2 separate regions of the Homo sapiens genome follow, and region 1 is linked to region 2. The links come from fine-mapping of genetic effects on gene expression. Tissue or cell type: testis. Region 2 holds a variant in brackets; the other region holds the start of a gene. All regions are shown on one strand. Distances are between the middles of the regions.

Evidence for each region. PIP is the estimated chance that this variant, and not a neighbour inherited with it, causes the effect.
Region 1: it holds the start of MAP1S, and the variant in region 2 is fine-mapped to the expression of MAP1S in testis (GTEx, PIP 0.98).

Annotation. Positions count from the first base shown.
Region 1 is chr19:17,717,998-17,720,620 of GRCh38, forward strand. MAP1S (microtubule associated protein 1S) reads left to right here and starts at 1,483. Exons shown (of 7, transcript NM_018174.6): 1 at 1,483-1,623. The coding sequence starts at 1,506. RefSeq lists enhancers at 1-14, 2,065-2,134, 2,525-2,623 and a silencer at 1,665-1,714.
Region 2 is chr19:17,532,340-17,535,094 of GRCh38, forward strand. It overlaps NIBAN3 (niban apoptosis regulator 3), which reads left to right. Exons shown (of 15, transcript NM_001321827.2): 3 at 1-49; 4 at 1,248-1,362. Among named protein-coding and RNA genes, the nearest start is that of NIBAN3, 6.4 kb to the left of the region's middle. The variant C/T (reference allele first, on the strand shown) is at 1,153.

The DNA of each region.
Region 1 (2,623 bases), 190 kb after region 2:
AGCACTTTGGGAGGCCGAGGCAGGCAGATCACGAGGTCAGGAGATCGAGACCACGGTGAAACCCCGTCTCTACTGAAAATACAAAAAATTAGCTGGGCACAGTGGCGGGCGCCTGTAGTCCCAGCTACTCGGGAGGCTGAGGCAGGAGAATGGCATGAACCTGGGAGGTGGAGCTTGCAGTGAGCCGAGATCGCGCCACTACCCTTCAGCCTGGGCGACAGAGCGAGACTCTGTCTCTAAAAGAAAAGAAAAGAAAAGAAAAGAAAAGAAAAGAAAAGAAAAGAAAAGAAAAGAAACCTCATCTCTACTAAAATACAAAAATTAGCAGGGCATGGTGGCGGACACCTATAATCCCGCTACTTGGGAGGCTGAGGCAAGGGAATCGCTTGAACCCGGGAGGCAGAGGTTGCAGTGAGCTGAGATTGTGCCATTGCACTCCAGCCTGGGCGGCAGAATGAGACTCCATCTCAAGAAAAGGAAAGGAGAGGAGAGGAGAGGGGAGAGGAGGGGAGGGGAGGGGAGGGAGAGGAAGGGAGGGGAGGGGAGGAGAGGAGAGGAGAGGGGAGAGAAGGGGAGGGGAGGGGAGAAGAGGAGAGGAGGGGAGGGGAGGAGAGGAGAAGAGAGGGGAGGAAAGGAAAGAAAAGCCTAAAGAGGATTATCTGGGGAGAGAGAGGTACCCATGTGCGCAACGCAGGCAGTCCCTTGCACAGGCTGGATCTAGAGTAAGACCCACTTGGGTTCAAACCTGCTCTACCACTTACAGGCCTGGTGACTTCATCCCTCCAAATCTCAGTTTCCTCTTCTTTCCTCTGAAAGTGACCACAGTAACTGTGCCTACTCATCTGTGCCTACATACAAGCACAAAACTCATCGCTTTGTGCTTGTATGTAATGAGCTAATGCAATAAAATACCTGGCGCACAGGAGGTGCAGAATAAGTGTTGCCCTGTTCCAGGCAGGCCCAGAGTGCTCCGGTTGTGTCCCAAACACACATGTACTTTCTTACCTCTAAAACTTTGCACCTGCTGTAAACTTCTGCCTCACCAGCTCTTGCCCCACCACCCACAAGGCAAACTCCTACACATCCCTTAAAGCCCTACCTACAAGATAGATTTCTTTTCTCTGTTCAAGCCCTGACCTAGAGAGCTGGGAGCATCCATAGGCACCGGGTTCTGATGCGGCCTACTGTCATGTGATGTGAGTTCCTGGAGGGCAGGAGTTCTGACCTACATGCAGCAGGCACGCAATCAAAGCTTGTTCAATGAAAAAAAAAATGAATGAATGGTCACTTGGGAGAGGCGGCTCCCAAGCGGACACCCAGGAGTCGGCCAACCCCTTTAACGCCCGCATCCCCTGCTCTCCACGACCTCAAAGGGCCTGTAAGTGGTCGACAAAAAGGGGCGGGGATGCGGTGGTTCCGGGCGGGGTCTTCAGCCCTTCCGGTGCGGCCCCTTTAAGAGGCGGGGCCTGCGGGGCGGGCGCCGAGAACGCCGGGGCGGCCCGAAGATGGCGGCGGTGGCTGGATCTGGGGCTGCCGCGGCTCCGAGCTCACTGCTCCTCGTGGTGGGCAGCGAGTTCGGGAGCCCGGGGCTCCTCACCTACGTCCTGGAGGAGCTCGAAAGAGGTCGGGCTGGCCTGGGGGCCCGCGGGAGCCCGGGAGGCGGGCCCGTTCGCGCGTCTGGGCCCGGGGCCGGCGGGGTGGGGCGGCGGCGGCGGCGGCGGCGGGACCCGGGCTCCGGGGCGGGGGTCGCGGGCCTGGGGCTGGGTCCCCTTCACCGTTAGGCGCACGACGCGGGCAAAGGCGGGGTGCCCGTGGGTGCCCGCGGAGAAAGTGGCATCCGGGCCTGGGCTGGGCAGGGCTGCCCCGCCCCAACTCCGGGTGAAGATAGGGGAGGGGACACGGGCCTGGGCTTGGGGACCCTTGCAGTTGGACCACGGCTCCGCTTCCCGCCTGACTGGCCTGCCCGGGGGTAGGGCCTGGGGTCGCTTTGGATCTCCAGGTCTTAGCAGCTTAGATAGAGATCTCCCGGAGGGAGAAGCAGATATGGGGGAGGCTGGGCCTGGAGCCCCGGGGCCCGCTTTCTGTTGCCTCACAAGGAGCTGCTAATTGGGGTGTGGGCGGGTGCGGCCTGCCCTGGGGATTTGGCACCTAGGGAGGTGAGTCATAGGCGCACCTGCCAGGTTCACCTGCAGCCACTTGGCTCAGTGGGACTGGCGGGCGTGATGCGCCCGTGGGTGGAGATGGGTGTTCATCCCCCATCCCTCGGAGCATCTGGACCTGGCGTTTCATTGCATGTAAAATGGGACAGGAACACGCACCTCGGTTCATGTGCTTGAGGAGTGTTTAGTGAGCACCTGCTATGCGCCAGGCCTTTGGGCAGTGGACACAGGGATATGGCCGGGATGATAGACAGGTTCAGCCCTGCCAACACAGGTCTGGTTTGGGGATGGACCCAAAGCGAGTGAGGAGATGGAACAAGCTTCCAGCTCACATGGTGTCAGGAAGGATGAGAAGGCTGCAAGGGACTGAGAGGACAGTCAGTCTTAGCACCCGAAGGTGCTGAGGGGGAAGGGCCCCCTGGCCAGTAGGAACAGGTGGGGGCGGCAGGGGGATGGACTTCCAG
Region 2 (2,755 bases):
CTGTGTTCTGCGTGGGGACGGCCGCCTAGAGTGGTTCAGCCACAAGGAGGTGCGTGATTGGCACGTGGCCTTTCTACTTCTGGGTCCCTCCTTCCCACCCCCGTCAGCCTCAAGGTTTGTGGGATCCATATCTCAGCATAGCCCCACCTCTATCAATCACCCAGGATGAATCTTGTGCCCCTATGTGTTTGGCCTGTTGTAGGCAACCATCTCGTCCCATCCCCTGCTGTGCTGGGTGGGTAAACTGAGGCCCAGGCCAGGGATAGGGTCGTGGTCAGTATCAGAGCTGTGGTTTCAACCTCTTGGGGCCTTTGCAAGTCACACCTCTGGCCGCTCTGCTTTCTGGCTGGGGAGCTTGGAGCGATCACTACCTTTCTGAAACTCAGTTTCCACTTCTGTGAAATGGGATGTTTCACACCATGTAGGGCTTTGAGGGTTCAACAAGAGGGTCCTCAGACAGCACTTGGGACCGGACCGGCACGTGGGGAGCCCGTGGGTGCTGGGAGCTCAGGGACTGAGGGAGGAAGGGAGGGAAAGGGGAAAGGGAAGGAGGGAGAGAGAGGGCAAGAACAGGAGGGAGGAAGGGAGAAAGTTATGGGGGCAGAGGTAGGATGGATGGAGGGAGAGAGGAGGAAAAAAAAAGGGAGGGAGAGCCGGGCCTCGTGGCTCACGCCTATAATCCCAGCCCTTTGGGAGGCTGAGGCAAATAGATCCCTTCAGCCCAGGAGTTCAAGAACAGCCTGGCCAACATGGTGAAACTCCGTCTCTACTAAAAATACAAAACCTAGGGCCAGGCACGGTGGCTCAGGCCTGTAATGCCAACACTTTGGGAGACCAAGGCAAGTGGATCACCTGAGGTCAGGAGTTCAAGACCAGCCTGGGCAACATGGCGAAACCCCGTCTCAATTAAAAATACAAAAATTAGCCTGCTGTGGTGGCGGGTGCCTGTAATCCCAGCTACTCGGGAGGCTGAGGTGGAAGAATCACTTGAACTTGGGAGGTGGAGGTTGCGGTGAGCTGAGATCGCGCCATCGCACTCCAGCCTGGGTGACAGAGTGAGACTCTGTCTCAAAAACAAAAAAAAAAAAAAAGAGAGAGGGAGGAATGGAGGAAAGGAGAGGGAGGGAGGGGTGGGAGGGGCAGAGGATTTTT[C/T]AGCTCATCTGAAATCTTCCCTTGATGGTATAGTTGGGACACAGAAGCCACAGTTCAGACCTGTCCCAGGTTGGTTCTCTGGGTACCTTTTGTAGGAATATGAAAACGGGGGCCACTGCCTTGGCTCAACAGCCCTGACAGGATACACGCTCCTGACTTCCCAGCGAGAATATCTCCGCCTTTTGGATGCTCTCTGCCCTGAATCCTTGGGTAAGGGTCCCGGGGTTCCCAGGAACAGGTTTCTCCACCCCAGCATCATTAACATGTGGGGCCAGATCATTCTCTGCGGTGGGGGCGTCCCGTGTACAGCAGGGCAGTAAGCAGCATCCCTGGCTTCCACCCACTCCCTGCCTGCAGCAGCCCCCACCCTGGGTGCGACAACCACCAATGTCTCCAGCATTGCCAAGTGTCTCCCGGGGGCAGCGTTGCTACGGGTGAGCATCCCTACTCTGGAAAACAAACAAACAAACAAACAAACAAACACCCACTCTTGCAAGGGTGAGGGGGAGAGTTAGGTCATGGGACCAGAATCAGAATAGCAAAGGATAAAAACAGTAAAATCTGGGATGGGTGCACTGTCTCATGCCTGTAGTCCCAGCTACTCGGGAGGCTGAGGCGGGAGGATCGCTTAAGCCTGGGAGGTGGTGGCAGTGAGCCGAGATTGCCCCACTGCACTCCAGCCTGGGCAATAGACTGAAACCCCATCTCCAAAAACAACAACAAAAACAATTAAAAACAATAGGCTGGGCACGGTGGCTCATGCCTATAATCCCACCACTTTGGGAGGCCGAGGTGGGCGGATCACTTGAGGTCAGGAGTTCGAGACTAGCCTGGCCAACGTGGTGAAACCTCGTCTCTACTAAAAATACAAAAATTAGCCGGTGTAATGACATGCGCCTGTAATCCGAGCACTTTGGGGGACCAAGGCAGGTGGATCACCTGAGGTCAGGAGGAGACCTCATGAGGCCAGCCTGACCAATATGGTGAAACCCTGTCTCTACTAAAAATACAAAAGGTAGGCCGGGCGTGGTGGCTCACGCCTGTAATCCCAGCACTTTGGGAGGCTGAGGCGGGCAGATCATGAAGTCAGGAGATCAAGACCATCCTGGCTAACATGGTGAAACCCCATCTCTACTAAAAATACAAAAAATTAGCCAGTTGTGGTGGCGGGCACCTGTAGTCCCAACTACTCAGGAGGCTGAGGCAGGAGAATGGCGTGAACCCGGGAGGCAGAGCTTGCAGTGAGCCGAGATCGCGCCACTGCACTCCAGCCAGGGTGACAGAGCAAGACTCCATCTCAAAAAAAAAAAAAAAAAGAAAAGAAAAGAAATTAGAGAAGGAACAATTCCAATTCCAGGCATGTGCCTGGCAAATAACTCAGCATTGGGCTTGCACTATCTCATAAAGTCTGCCCAGCAGGCAGGCCCATCACTAACTACCCCATTTCACAGATAAGGACATTGAGGCTGAGGATTGTCACACAGTCAAGGGCAGAGCTAGAATTGCACCCTCTGCTTCACCTAAAAGCTATCTTGCTGTCAAAGGACACAAAAATGTAGTCTGCTGAGATGTTGATGCTGCTCAAAACATCAGAATCTGCCCA